Linked DNA regions of Homo sapiens. The protein of the gene in region 1 interacts with the protein of each later gene in a pairwise test. Each region holds a gene or a part of one and is shown in the gene's direction. Other genes may lie near its edges. The genes, in order: TWIST2, GLIS2 and ATXN10.

What was found.
Region 2: the proteins of TWIST2 (region 1) and GLIS2 interact in binary tests that used the Homo sapiens proteins (3 or more experiments, as listed by UniProt).
Region 3: the proteins of TWIST2 (region 1) and ATXN10 interact in binary tests that used the Homo sapiens proteins (3 or more experiments, as listed by UniProt).

Annotation. Positions count from the first base shown.
Region 1 is NC_000002.12:238,906,608-238,911,078, forward strand, and holds the end of TWIST2 (twist-related protein 2), read left to right. Parts: intron 1-3,234; 3' UTR 3,235-3,927; downstream 3,928-4,471. UniProt on the Homo sapiens protein: Binds to the E-box consensus sequence 5'-CANNTG-3' as a heterodimer and inhibits transcriptional activation by MYOD1, MYOG, MEF2A and MEF2C. Also represses expression of pro-inflammatory cytokines such as TNFA and IL1B.
Region 2 is NC_000016.10:4,326,006-4,333,140, forward strand, and holds part of GLIS2 (zinc finger protein GLIS2), read left to right. Parts: intron 1-424; exon of another isoform or gene 425-489; intron 490-2,254; exon of another isoform or gene 2,255-2,335; intron 2,336-3,104; exon of another isoform or gene 3,105-3,164; intron 3,165-6,209; 5' UTR 6,210-6,275; coding exon 6,276-6,447; intron 6,448-7,135. UniProt on the Homo sapiens protein: Can act either as a transcriptional repressor or as a transcriptional activator, depending on the cell context. Acts as a repressor of the Hedgehog signaling pathway. Represses the Hedgehog-dependent expression of Wnt4.
Region 3 is NC_000022.11:45,842,721-45,845,829, forward strand, and holds the end of ATXN10 (ataxin-10), read left to right. Parts: intron 1-270; coding exon 271-458; intron 459-948; coding exon 949-951; 3' UTR 952-2,587; downstream 2,588-3,109. UniProt on the Homo sapiens protein: May play a role in the regulation of cytokinesis. May play a role in signaling by stimulating protein glycosylation. Induces neuritogenesis by activating the Ras-MAP kinase pathway and is necessary for the survival of cerebellar neurons.

The DNA of each region.
Region 1 (4,471 bases):
ACATTCTTTCATACTCACACTCACTCTCACACTAGTGGGCACACTCACAGACACACACACGGGATGTCACCGAGCACCACGTCACCCGTCCCTCCAGCTTCCACATCCTCCCCCCAGTGCCTGGGGCCTCCCTGGACCTCCTTCCCTGTGGCAGAATCCTCACGGTGACCCCTCTCCTGGCGGCCGCCTTGGGGAGCCCATGCCTGCCTCTGGGCTGACACCCACCCCTCCCACCACGCTCAGCCGCTCTGCGGGAGGAGGGTCTCGTTGCGCTGGTTTGCCCCTTGGCTCAGGGGAGTTCTCCAATAATTCTCGCTGAACACTCACCTCCCGCGAGCTCTGCAGGTCAACTGGCTGTTCTCATGTTTGTGCAAGAGGTGTGGGAGTGAGCACTTACACGGCCAGGCCCTGTGGTGAGCAGTAAAGGTCCCAGGTCGCAGGGCCAGTCTTCAGCGATCCCTGCTAGAGCTCAGGTCTCCTGGCAGGACAGCAACACAGCCTGGGGGCTGCTGCAGGCTGGCCTGGGTGTGTGGCAGAAGCGGCCCTGAGGCGCGGCGCGGGGCCCACCTGTGTTCGCCACACTCCCGACCAGGTGCTGATGCCAGTGGCGTGTCCCCTGCCCTGTGGGCCCCACTGAGGTGGCCCAAGACCTTGGGCTTATGACACCACATCCCTGTACACCCTGGGTCTCAGACGCTGGCCCCGGCCACCTCTCAGCACCTTCTCTTTGAGCTTGGCAGGCACAGAGGGAGGCGCGGGATTGGGGTCCCCACCCCGGCTTCCTGGAGGACCTGGACTTTCCTCCTGCCTGTGTCTCCTCCCCCTGCAGGTGGGAACCAGGCTCTGGGTAGCGCCTGAGCGGGTTCTTTCCCCAAGGCGCTCCCGGGACAGCTGGTTGCAGCCCCAGAGCTGCACCAAGCCTGGCACACCCACAGTTTGATTGGCCCACAAGTGCGCTTAGAAGTCACTTGTGTGGCATGAGGGGACCTTGTGGGGCTGGAAGAATTGTGTGTCTTGATCATAGTGGGGGGTGCAAGAAACAACACGCATGATGAAACTGCAGGAAGTACACATACACCACTCACACACACACACAAATGCACACAATACACACACAAACACACACATAAACGCACACAACACACACACAAAAACACACAAACACTCCACATACCCACTTACACACATAAACACACACCACGCGCCACACAAATATACCACACACTACACACACACCCCCACACTGTACATACACACCACATACACACACACCACACAAACACACTACACCCCCACTTACAAACACACACCACCTACACCACACACAAACACACATCACATGGCACACAAACATACCACACACTACACACACACCCCACATTGTACATACGCACCACATACACAAACACATACCACACAAACACACCACACCCCCACATACACACACAAAGTCACGCCACATACACCACACACCATACAAACATACCACACACACAGACATACCACATACACATACACATAGATACCATACCATACACACTACCCACTACATACCACATATACATACCCCACACCACACACACATACACACGCCACACTGTACACATATACCCCCCATACAAAATACAATCCCCCAAACACACACCACATACACCATGCACCATACATACCACACACTACACACACACTTCACACTGTACATAGACACCACATACACACACATACCACACACACAAACACACCACACCCCACATACACACAAACACAAACCACATGCACCACACACCACACAAACATACCACACACTGCACACACCACACATACCACATACACACACATGCACACACATACAACATACCATGTACACTACACACTATATACCACACATACATACCCCACACCACACACACCCACACGAGTGACATGTGAATAAGCTCTTGGTCCATACTGGTGCCAGATGCCTGGGTGTGACGTGACGACACCACTGTATGTGTGGCATATAATGTGGTATATAATATACCATATGGTATGTTGTCTGTGTGGATATGTATGTGGTATGTTTGTGCAGTGTGTGGGGTGTGTGTAGTATGCAGTGTGTTTGTGCTGTGCAGTGTGTGTGTGGGTATGTGGGGATGTGGTGTGTTTGTGTGTGGTATGTGTTTGTGTATGAGGTGTGTATGGACAGTGGGATGCGTGTGTAGTGTGCGGTATGTTTGTGTGGTGTGTGGTGTGTGTGATGTGTTTGTGTGTGGGAGGGTGTGGTGTGTTTGTGTGGTGTGTGGTGGTGTATGTAGTGTGTTTGTGTATGTGGCAGTGTGGTGTGTTTGTGTGTGTGGTATTTGTATGTGGTGTGTATGTACAGTGCGGGGTGTGTGTAGTGTGTAGTATGTTTGTGTGGTGTGTGTGTGTATGTGGAGGTGTGGTGTATTCGTGGTTGTGGTATGTGTATGTGGTGTGTATGTAGTGTGGGGTGTGTGTAGTGTGTGGTATGTTTGGTGTGTGTGTATGTGGGGTGGGGTGTGTTCGTGGGTGTGGTATGTGTATGTGGTGTGTAGTGTGGGGTGTGTGTAGTGTGTGGTATGTTTGGTGTGTGTGTGTATGTGGGGTGGGGTGTGTTCGTGGGTGTGGTATGTGTGGAAACTGGGTGAAAGGCACATGGGACATCTCTGTGTTGTCTTTGCAACTTCCCGTGTGTCTGCAATTGTTTTGAAAGCACGCATTTTAAAGCAAGAATCCGCCGTTGACAGCTCCCGCCAGCGGCTGACCCATTTCTCTGCGTCCTCCTCGCTGGAACCCAGCCCTCTGCTGCCCGAAACCCCACAGCTCCCTCGGGCCTGCACGGGGCCAACGTGCCGAGCCTCTCTTGTCCCCAGGCAGCCTGTTCTGAGGGGCTCACCCACAGCCAGACCGCATTCATGGCTGCGCTGAGCACGGGCCAGGGAGAGGCCCCGGGGTGGTGAGTGTGAGAAAGGGCACTCGGGGGCAGGAAAGGGCACTCGGGGGAGGGAAAGGGCTTGGCCTGGCCCAGGGGGCAGGGGTTGCGGAAGCCTGGGCTGGCCCCGTAGCAGTCACCTGCCCAGTGTCTTTTGGGAGGAACATGAGTAGAACAGAGCCAGCTCTCTCAGGGCCTGCCCCGTGTCCCGTCCCACCCAGCCTTGGGACAGTCTCAGGACGATCCTGCAGGAGGCCGAGCGAGGCGGCCGTAGCTCACGGTCCCCCTTCCGTATCTTCCAGGCTGTCCGTCGCGTCGGCGGCGCAAGTGGAATTGGGATGCATTCGAGTCTGTAACTTCTGAAACCTGAACAACCTCAGGAGGCCCCCACCTCTGCCCTCCACCAGCGTCGAGAGAAGGGACAGCAGTGACATCGGACAGAAGACCCGGGCTCCCGTCCTCCCCCAGGACGGTCCCCACATAGGAAGGGCACTCCCAGCCCTCTTGCTGGTGACATTGTCATGGTCATCTTGTTTCTGTTTGGATTTTTCTTCTGGGTCTTATGTTTGGGGGGAGGTTTATTCTTTCTGAAAATGTCTAGATTCAGGAACACATTTATGAGGATTTGGATTTTGAATTTGTATTTCCCTCTAAGTGCCTTTTTTAATGTCTATTTTTTTAATAAAACAGAAATGCATTCTTGTACAATTCTGTTGAAACTGGACCAAGGCTCTCAGAAGAGGACCCCCGAGTTCCTTCCCCTCCCCCGAGCCTCTGCATGATTGTTTCAAGTCAGCCTGGAATTCTTACTTTCACGCCGCTATTCTTTTCCTTTCTCCGTGATTGCTTGGCTAGCCATTTAAAAAAAAATATTCTCTGTTCAGTGTATATGTTGCTTGTTTGTTTTATTTATTGAGATATTTTTACAAGCTAAGTGACTGCAGTGTGGCTGTGTATCCTGCTCCCCACCCAGGAAAAATAAAGACGTCCGCGCAGCCATGGTCTCCCCATCTCTGTTCTCATCTCTACTTCGCAGCTCAGGGCTCTGCCTGAGAGAGTCAGAACAGGTTGCAAGAATCACTATTACTTCACTTTAAAAGGCACGAGAGAGGATGTGAGACATTTTATGCTGTGCATGTTTGTAGAAATTTCTAGAAACTACCAACTCTAACATGGTTGCCAGTGTGAACAGACCGAGGCCTGGGAGAGCAGAGGGGGCCTCAGCCCTTTCCCAGTGCCTAGTCCTCTGCTGCTCCCCAGCAGCCTCAGCACAAGAGACCATTGCTGTCACACCCACGCCCCGCTCTTGATACAGAAGCGTGCCCATTCTGTGAGCCACCCCTGCTGTCCAAAGTCCGGGCCAGCCTTCCCTGCTGCTCACCCTGGGTGGTATTCCCTGCTCTCCCAAGCATGGCATTCATTTGTGCCACCACCTCCCTGCTTCTCTGAACGAGTCACCGTCTGCTCCACATGCATCCGTGCCATGTTGACCATGAGCTCACCAGGCAGCTGGCTAAGAATGGAGCACCTGGGTGTGCA
Region 2 (7,135 bases), on another chromosome or scaffold:
AGGTGGGCGGATCACGAGGTCAGGATATCGAGACCATCCTGGCTAACACGGTGAAACCCTATCTCTACTAAAAAAATACACACAAAAAAATTAGCCGGGTGTGGTGGTGGGCGCCTGTAGTCCCAGCAACTCAGGAGGCTGAGGCAGGAGAATGCTGTGAACCTGGGAGGCGGAGCTTGCAGTGAGCTGAGATCGTGCCACTGCACTCCAGCCTGGGTGACAGAGTGAGACTCCATCTCAAAAAAGAAACAAACAAAAAAAACAAAGGTGACCACATAGACTTCTGAGAGATGCATCTTGAGGCCTTGTCTCCAAGTTCTCAGCTAAATGGCCACTGCTGACCAAAAGCGCACTCGCAGGACACTCCAAGGCAAGGGGTGTTCCTCACATTGCCCTTGACAACACTGCCACGCTGGTCACTCACCTGACCCCATGCTGCTGGGAGCGGGGCAGGGATGCAGCCCCATCTTACAGAGGACCCGCTTCCTTCTGCAAAGAGACCAAGTGGTTCTCAGGGTGGGTGCACACAGCCCCCCAGTGCACCCTGCACCTCCACAGGCTTAGGGCCTGCCAGCCACCCTCCCCCAAGCAGGAAAGGAGGAGCTTTTTTTGTTGTTTTTTGAGACAGGCCGGAGTGCAGTGGTGTGATCTCGGCTTACTGCAGCCTCAAACTCCCCAGGCTCAGGCGATCCTCCCACCTCAGCCTCCCGAGTAGCTGGGACCACAGGTCCCTGCTTCCACGCCCAGCTATTTTTTTTTTTTTTTTTTTTTCCGAGATGGAGTCTCACTCCGTCGCCCAGGCTGGAGTGCAGTGGCGCGATCTCAGCTCACTGCAACTTCTGCCTCCCTGGTTCAAGCGATTCTCCTGCCTCAGCCTCCCGGGTAGCTGGAATTACAGACACCTGCCACCACGCCCGGCTAATTTTCGTATTTTTAGTAGAGAGAGCGTTTCGCCATGTTGGCCAGGCTGGTCTGGAACTCCTGACCTCAGGTGGTCCGCCCTCGGCCTCCCAAAGTGCTGGGATTACAGGCATGAGCCACCGTGCCCGGCCACCGGCTGATTTTTTTACTTCAAACGGGATTTTTCCATGTTGCCCAGGCTGGTGTAGAACTCCTGCACTCAAGGGATTCTCCTGCCTCGGCCTCCCAATGTGCTGGGCTTACAGGCGTCAGCCACCGCGCCTGGCCTAGAAGGAGCTTTATTCAGAGCAGGACTCCAACCAGCTCCCTATTAGCCTAGTGATCTCAAGCCTCAGTTTCCCCATCTGTGAGATCGGGAAAATGACAGCAGCTACTGCCAGGCAGGGTTGTAGAGGGGTCATTGAATCCATGGACAGATGGGCCTGACACGTGGTCAGTACCTAATGGTCCTTTACCCCCTCTGGTGTATGACCCACCCCAGGCCAAGGGGCCCTGGAAGAGACTGTCTTTTCCGGGCCTTAGTTTCCCTGAGTGTGCTGGGTCGCCCCGTGCCTTCCAGTAGGGAGGGTGGGGACAGTGGCCGGCCCCGCCTGCCAGGGCGGGATCCTTGGCTACCTGGCCTGGCCGGGGACTGCGGGCGGGGGGCCGGGTGGCTCCGCCAGCGCTGCAGCTGGGGGCCGTCTGCTCGGGCTGCGGTCGGGCACACAATAGCAGCCATTGTCTCGGCCAGGGTGGCGGGGGGCCCGCCCAGCCCACCCTCCGGGTGACCCCCGCCCTGCGGTGGGTGGGAAGGGCAGGGCCCGGTCCCCCGAAGCCCCCGCCGTCCCGGTGGTCCCCGCGGCCGCCCCCGCGCGCTTCCTCCCTCGCCGCAGCCGCTTCCTCCCGCTCGCCCCGCTCTAATTAGTTCCTTTTGCAGCTGGAGGAGCCGCGCAGCGGCCGGTTCCGCGGCCACCCCCACCCCCCACCGACAACCCCAGCCCTCGCCCCAACCCCTGGGCCCTTGCGTGTGGGGGCGCTGCCCTGGGCGCATCCCAGGCTGAGTGCTCGAGAGACGCGGCCCTGGGCTCTGTGCACCCTCCACGCTGCGCTGTCCCACCGGGGGGAAACTGAGGAACGGAAGGCTCCACCAGGAGGCGCAGAGGGGCGTGGGGCCGGCGGGCCTTGCGCTGCGCCCGGGGAGCATCCACGGGGTGCCCCCACCTGACCGAGAGCCGGCTCCTGCCCTCGGGACCCCGCAGTAATTAGCACCCAGGCCTCTGGCTGAGCTTGTCCAGAGCCAGGCTGTCGGCCTTACGCTGGGGAGAGCCACGGCCACCCGCTCATGGGCACTCACTCAGGGTTCCCTGGTTGCAGGCCCGCTGCTCCCCGCTCTGGGCCTCCGAGGCTTTCAGGAGAGCAGGAACCTAGCTCTCGCCTGCCCCCTTCACCCAGCCGGGAACAAAAGCACAGAGCAGAGCCCAGAACTGGCTGCTGCCGGTCGGGGCGGGGGTGGAAGGGGAGGCTTTAAGCCTGGCCAAGGTCAGAACTGAAGCAGGGTCACTGACCGTCTCCCCTCTGGGGTGGGGCCTCCATTGGAGGAAAAACTCTGGGTGGGGAGGGCCTGGAACAGGGATGCTGGGAGGTGTAGGGCTGGGGGCAGCTCCTTCCTTTCCCGGGGGCAGGGACGCAGGCCGTGTGCCGGGCTCTGGCCTGCATTGGAATGAACCCCTGCCTCCCTGGCAGGACCCAGTGGCAGGAAGTGTGTGGGGGTGCCCCTGGGGACTGGACCTGCTGATGAAGGGGGTGCATTGGAGTCCTCCCTCTGGCTTTGGGCCGTGTGGCTGGCCCCACCTGGGGAGACAGGCTCCTCCTGGGGAAGTGTCCCCTGCAGGCCCTAAGAACAAGGTGACTCAGGGCCCCTGGCTCCCCGAGTCCCCATCTGTCCTGGGAAGGCAGTGGGGCAGGTGCCAAAGGATGTTGCTTGGGCAGCGCTGCCAGTGAGTGTCCCCGTCAGCTGGAATTCCCAGTTCCCAAACCATCCTGCCCTTGTGGTCCCCTTCTCCGGAAGGGTGGGGGTGGGGGTGAGGACAGAGGCTGTGGGGAGGCCTGTGGCCCCAGGCCAGCCAAGGGACCAGGCCACCAGCCCTTCCTGGCTCCTGAATTCTTCATCAGCATAAATATTTACTTCCTTCCTCCCCGTCCAGGCTTCCAGCACAGAGGAGCTTCGGGGAGGCTGGATTGCGCCTGTGTCTAAAAATAAACAGGTAGCAGGACGATAGACACACAGATAGACAGATGGAACTGGCAGGGGTTCAGGCAGAGGGCAACTCCCTGTCCAGCCAGAGAAACAGTGGAGGGGACCCTGGTCCATCCATCACTGTCACCCACCCACCTGCTAGCGGGGGTGTGGTCCCTACCCCACCGCATCTCTGGGAGCCCCTGGCCCATGCATGGCCTGGGAGGCAAATTCAAACAATCTGACAGCTCCAACAGGGGCGAATCGCAGACCTAGGTCCCACGGCCTAGTGCAGCTGCCCTGGCTCTGATGATGCAGCCTTGGGAGAGGTGGGCAGCCCCCCTGTGCTGAGACCCCCGTGTCAGCCATGTTGGGGTGGGGTCTGGGGATGTGTCCCTAGAAGCAGAGGATCTCCAGTGAAGGGGGGACCATTTTATGCCCTACTTGCTTGGAGAGTCAGGGCAGAAGGGGAGGACGTGGGAGCTGCCTTCCTGTCCTGCCCTGTGGACAGCATCTCTCCCCACTCACAGGCTATGCTAGCCCCCAGGGAAACACACGGGGGCATATCCAAAGTATTTCACCATGTAGTAGTTATGTCCACCATGGCCGCCCTTTGGTATTGAGTAAAGACCCCAATACCGCGAAAGACGGGATCTCACAGCGTGATTGTGCGGCAGTTAGATTTTCAAGTTGTAATAATCCCAATGAACAAACGCAAGGAAATGTCGTGTTTAACCGCGTAGGAAAAGATTGCTGCTCTGAATGTGAAGTTTGGGTTTAGAATGAAGTGTTGACCTTGTTCTTGGGTCGGTGGATACTGTTAGATCATTTGCATGTGAGGAAAATTACACCAGGTGGGGCGAGGTGGCTCACACCTGTAATCACAGCACTTTGGGAGGCCGAGGTGGGCAGATCACCTGAGGTCAGGAGTTTGAGACCAGCCTGGCCAACATGGTGAAACGCTGTCGCTACTAAAAATAGAAAAATTAGCTGGGTGTGATGGTGTACACCTGTAATCCCAGCTACTTGGGAGGCTGAGGCAGGACAATCGCTTGAACTCGGGAGGCAGAGGTTGCAGTGAGCCCAGATCACACCACTGCACTCCAGCCTGGGTGACTGAGAGACTCCATTTCCAAAAAGAAAATGAAAATTAAACCAGTGAGAAATTCTAAGAAAAATGATGAAAATTACAGCATGGGAAGTGATACTAAAAGAATACCATCTCCAGTAAAAAATAATTTCTACATATTTATATATTAACCGCCAGATACAGCTGGTCAACTCCACCAACCCTGCCCCAGCTGGCCAGGCCAGGCCACAATCCCCAGCTGCCCCCTGGTGGCGACCCAGCGCCCTGGGGCTCCCTGGCTTGCGATGCCTCTCCTCTAGGCCTCTGCAGGGAGGGCGGTGGGGCCCCTGGCTGTGCCCACTTTCTCGGTTTGCCTGGTGCGAGTTCCTTGGTGGTGAGCGTGGCTACCTGCCGGCCATTTCAGAGGATGCTCCTTGCCCCCTGGCCTGGTTCTAGATCTTTGGGGTCAAACAGGGCGGGAGTCCGGAGCATGGCTCCTGCTCTGTCAGAAAAGGCTGTTAGGACACGGCTAGCCAGTTCCCGGGAGATCTGGCTTCAGGCCTTGAATCTTGTTGGGAACAGGCCCCCCAAAATCTGGCTGTAAACTAGCCCCAAAACTGGCCATAAATAAAATCTCTGCAGCGCTGTGACATGTTCATGATGGCCATGACGCCCACGCTGGAAGGTTGTAGGTTTACCAGAATGAGGGCAAGGAACACCTGGCCCACCCAGGGCGGAAAAACTGCTTAAAAGCGTTTGGCTTTTTGTTTGTTTGTTTGTTTTTGAGACGGAGTCTTGCTCTGTCGCCCAGGCTGGAGTGCAGTGGTGCGATCTCGGCTCACTGCAAGCTCTGCGTCCCGGGTTCACACCATTCTCCTGCCTCAGCCTCCCGAGTAGCTGGGACTACAGGCGCCCGCCACCACACCTGGCTAATTTTTTTTTTTGTTATTTAATAGAGTTGGGGTTTCAGCGTGTTAGCCAGGATGGTCTCTATCTCCTGACCTCGTGATCTCCCCGCCTTGGCCTCCCAAAGTGCTGGGATTACAGGTGTGAGTTACTGCGCCCGGCCACAGGCGTTCTTGAACCACAAACAATGGCATGAGTGATCTGTGCCTTAAGGACACGCTCCTGCTGCAGATAACTAGCCAGACCCATCCCTTTATTTCCCATAAGGAATACTTTCAGTTAGTCTATAATCTATAGAAACTATGCTAATGACTGGCTTGCTGTCAATAAATACGTGGGTAAATCTCTGTTCAAGGCTCTCAGCTCTGAAGGCTGTGAGACCCCTGATTTCCCACCCCACACCGCTATATTTCTGCGTATGTGTCTTTAATTCCTCTAGCGCCGCCGGATTAGTCTCCCGACCGAGCTGGTCTTGGCAAATCTGATAGTTTTTCCACTTCTGAGCTCTGCGATCTGAGGCGATGCCTGTAAAAGACGCAGTTTCGCCAAGCGTGGTGGCTCAGGCATGTAGTCCCAGCGTTTTGGGAGGCCAAGGCAGGAGGATCGCTTGAGGCCAGGAGTTCGAGATCAGTTTGGGCAACATGGAGAGACCCGATCTCTACAAAAAAGAAAATTTTTTTTTTTAATTAGCCAGGAGCGGTGCCTGCCTGTAGTCCCAGCTACCAGGGAGGCTGAGGTGGGAGGATCGCTTGAGCCTAGGAGGTCGAGGCTGCAGTGAGCTATGATTGTGCCACTTGCACTCCAGCCTGAGTGACAGAGCGAGACTCTGTCAGCAAATAAAATTCAGTTTCATGGCAAAATGAAGAATGTGAGCTTTGTCTTCCCCAAGAGACTCATGGGAAGCAGATGCGGAATCTCTGAGGAGGCTGTTGGCTCTCCCCCCATGATAGCTGCCGGCCAGGTCGCTCGGAGGGTCTCCCTACCCAGGAGACAACCTCACACTGCCCCCTGCTCCTGCTCCTGTTAGACTGTCATGAGTACAGCCCGAGGAGAAGCCTGGGGTCTCAGTGCCACAGCACAGCTCCTGTCCTTCCCCAGGTTCCTGCGTGAAGACCAGCTGGGAGCCCACTGCCTGCTGCCACCTCCAACTCCGGCCCCCTCACCATGCACTCCCTGGACGAGCCGCTCGACCTGAAGCTGAGTATCACCAAGCTCCGGGCGGCAAGAGAGAAGCGGGAGAGGACGCTGGGTGTGGTCCGGCCCCGTGCTCTGCACAGGGAGCTGGGCCTGGTGGATGACAGCCCCACACCTGGCTCTCCAGGCTCCCCGCCCTCAGGTACTGGCCCTGGGCAGGGCAGGGGGACTTAGCCCTGATCCAGTCATGGTGACAGGGAGAATGGCCAAGTGTGTCCACCAGCATGTAGCTGCAGCCCCTCTCGGCTTCCGGTTCATGGGAAGCCCGCACGCTTGTCCTTCCATCCGCCCAGCATCGTATGTCTGCAGGGAGGTGGGAGCTGCAGTGCCCAGCTCACGTGGCTGGCACACGATGCAAACTGAGGCCTCTAGGCAGATCTGGAACAGAGCTGGTCGGGCAACCAGGCATTCAGAAGGAGCGGCAGTAGTCCCAGGACCTGCACCCTAGGCTGTGGGGTGGTGCCGCTGGCCAACCTGGGCAGTAGAGGCTGGGTCTGAGCCCAGGAGGTGCCTCTCAGGGATTCCCGGTGCTTGGGCCCAGGGTGGTGGGCACCACTTCTGCCCTGCCTCCAAGAGCAGAGTCACCCGAAAACCAGATTCACCGCTTGTCTGAAGGGGAAGGCTATGGGAGCAGCCCAGCCCGAACCTGCCACTTTACAGAAGGGAACACTGAGGCAGGAAGGGGCCTGGGAAAAGCTAGAAAGGTTCCTACCTGCCCGTCTGACAGGGACCCAGGGGCCCTGGGTTCGAGTCCTGTTCTGTTATTAACCCTGCGTGCCAGACCATTCCCGTCTGCAAAGCGGGCACTTCCCCCCTCCCCGGCTCACGGG
Region 3 (3,109 bases), on another chromosome or scaffold:
CATTCAACAAATACTGAGTAAATCTCTCTGGGTGCCCGTGGCTGGACATCACACACACATGCTGGATGTACATGTGCATATGCCTGCGTTGCCTCTTTTTAATGTGTTTGCACTTGAGATGCATATTCAGAGAATGCATCCTCAAGAAAACTTGTGGATTGATACTGGATGTTCCGTGTTTCTGTGCTCCTCTACTCCTTTTCTGATAATTCTTATGTGAAGTTATCAAACAGGAAAGTACGTTGTCACATTCCTTCACTCTGGCTCCAGTTCTGACCCAGTGGGTGATATATGCCATCCGAAACCTTACCGAAGACAACAGCCAAAACCAAGATTTGATTGCAAAGATGGAGGAACAGGGGCTGGCAGATGCATCCCTACTTAAAAAAGTGGGTTTTGAAGTTGAAAAGAAAGGCGAAAAGCTGATCCTGAAATCTACTAGAGACACCCCTAAGCCAGTAAGTACCCTCGAGGGAACTGTCCTTCCCTTTGGTTTGTAGAAAGCTGTTTCCACTTCCCCATTGCTTCAAGCACGAGGCTCTTTGTAAGAATATGGATGGGAGAATTGTGCCCTCTATAGTGGTTTACCGAGGAAAGCCCTAAAGATAGCTGCAAACGGTTTTTTTGTTCCGGCTTTATGCTGCCATTTTCTTAAAAGAGGGACAATTTCAAACTCATTCTGGGTGAGAAATACAAAAGGCATATCAAAAGTTATACATGGTCTAAAAGTAAGTTACTCATAGGAATTAGATTTTCTTTAAAAGATAGTTAATGTTCACTATAGTTTAAAAAACAGAACTCCTTGAATAATATTGCATGAATTGTTTTAGGTTTCTCTAAGTTATTTGTCACCACTGACCAAAGTTCTGGGTTTTTTCCCCTTTTGTCTGATGAATCTTGTGAACAGATTTGCTACATCTGCAATTTTGTTTCTTTCTTCTTCTTTAGTGAATGAACTACATCCAAATACCTGAATTTTTGGAATCTGTTTCATGGATTTTTCATCTTCTACCGTATGTGAAATTGCAAGTGTTTGAAGATTTATAAGTACAAATTTGGGAACATACAAATCTTTTAGGTAGTAGAGTTTAACGTGTATAAGCTAAAAGTGAAAGTAACTGAGTGTTCTCTTGTTTCTTTGCATTAATGTAACTGTGTGGTTTGCCTTTGTCCCCCTGGATAGAACGTGCATTTAAAGAATATATTGTACTTACTGTGACAGCAGATAATAAACCAGTCTCTTGGAGGGCACAACCCTTATTTGACAAAACTTGGATGTTGGCTTGACTGTGTTTGTCCCTTCAGATGGCAAGTCAGCATCATTCTTTATATTCCTCTTCTCATTGGGTTTTCTGAACTCTGGCAGGCGGTTGAAGTAGTTTCTCACTGTGATTAATTCTAGCAATCTCTTTTCACCCCTCTGCCTTTCCAAAACATTGACAAGACTCATTTCCAGTTAATTAATTCGAGAACCCTCCCTCTTCATTTTGGGTACTGGGCTGTCTTGTCACTGAGCCCTATCCCTTTGGAATGTGGCAGGGAGTGAGGTTGGTGAGAGAACATGTGGGCACTTAACTCTTCATGTTCCAGTTCATCCCAGAAGTAGACATCCCAGGACCCATTCTGTGTCAAGGTGAATGCCTGTGTCCTCCCCAGCTTCATGCCTCTGTCATGGGGGAAGGAATAGCTTATGTTCTGCTCTGGTGCAGTGCCGTAGATTAAAGGTACATTTCTATCTTCTTTGATTTAAAAAGCACCAGTCTCATAAAGGTGCCACTCAGTTTTAGCCATGTCTTCACTGAAATTGCAAAAGTACTTTTAGGGAGCAGGAGTTTATTTGACATCTAGTTATCTGTCTGTCTGTTCATCTATCTATCTGTCTGCTGTATGAGAGGTAGGACTGGATTAAATGACCACTGAACTCACTGAATCCAGATCATTCATATCATCAACAAAAGCTCTAGGGGGAGGTCACGTTGTGAATGCTTAAAACATATTATTTTCTTCAACAACCATATCGCTAAACTAATATATCCAGAGATTTTGCACAATTCGTGTTGAACCTTCCAAAACAAAAATAAAGACCTGTCCAAAAGTTTTGACAAAAATACTGATTGCTCCCAAATAAAGTGCTTCTAAGCTTTGTGTAGACATAGTTTAACTGATTTGTAAAAATAGCTTAAGCATGTTGAGAATGAAGTAAAAGTTTTCCCATGTGCTGTCTAATGTACTCTGTGTAACTCTGAAGACACATCAGCTTCTAGGATTGCAGCAATCTATGAATAACATTTTTTCTCTCATTTATGACTTTCCATCAGTAAAGAAGCCATTGCAGAATTTAAAATTACACAAAGGAGTCATTCTCTCCTGGGACATAAAGAGTTAAAGCTCTGTCCTCTAAATAGAAGCCTGGCCAAAGGGAGAAAACAGTGGGAGTCCCTTTTCCCTTTTAACAAGTTTGCAATAGACACTTCTTTTTTTCCTGTCTCAATGGATGTGTGCACACCAGTGGAATCGCACAAACTTGTCGGTATGAGCTATATAATAACAAACACAAATAAATAAAAGGGAGCCTTGTGAGAATACAGAATGGGGTAATGGTTATGTGTTTTCTAAGTAGGAAGTGTGGGGCTTGCATAGTGAAAACATGCTGATGACTGCATTGTGGCTGCCTTTGATTCCCTCGGATGGATTAATTCTTGAGCACAACAGCTTCCCTGTCCTCTACCGTGGAGGACTCGGAGCTCCTGAGAACCTTGTTTTACATGCTATAGAGGATTAATCATCACCTCAATCAGTCATTTAGAAGGAAGAAAAAAGCAGGCCAGCCTTACAAAATTTGTAAAGAGACAGAATGGTCACAGCAAGTTTTGTGACCATATTATTGCTTTCAAGAGCGAGCTGACAAAGCTTTTAGCTGGCTTCACTTTAAAAGATAGAGGGGAAGGCTTCTCAGCTTGATACTGAGTCCAAGTATTTGCAGAGTGATTATTTTTTAATACCTTAACAATGGATGTGAAGATTTCAAAAATACTTATTTTTGCAATCTTAAAACAGTCGGCTCTCTGTATCCACAGATTGAACCAACTGGGGATTGAAAATACTCAGG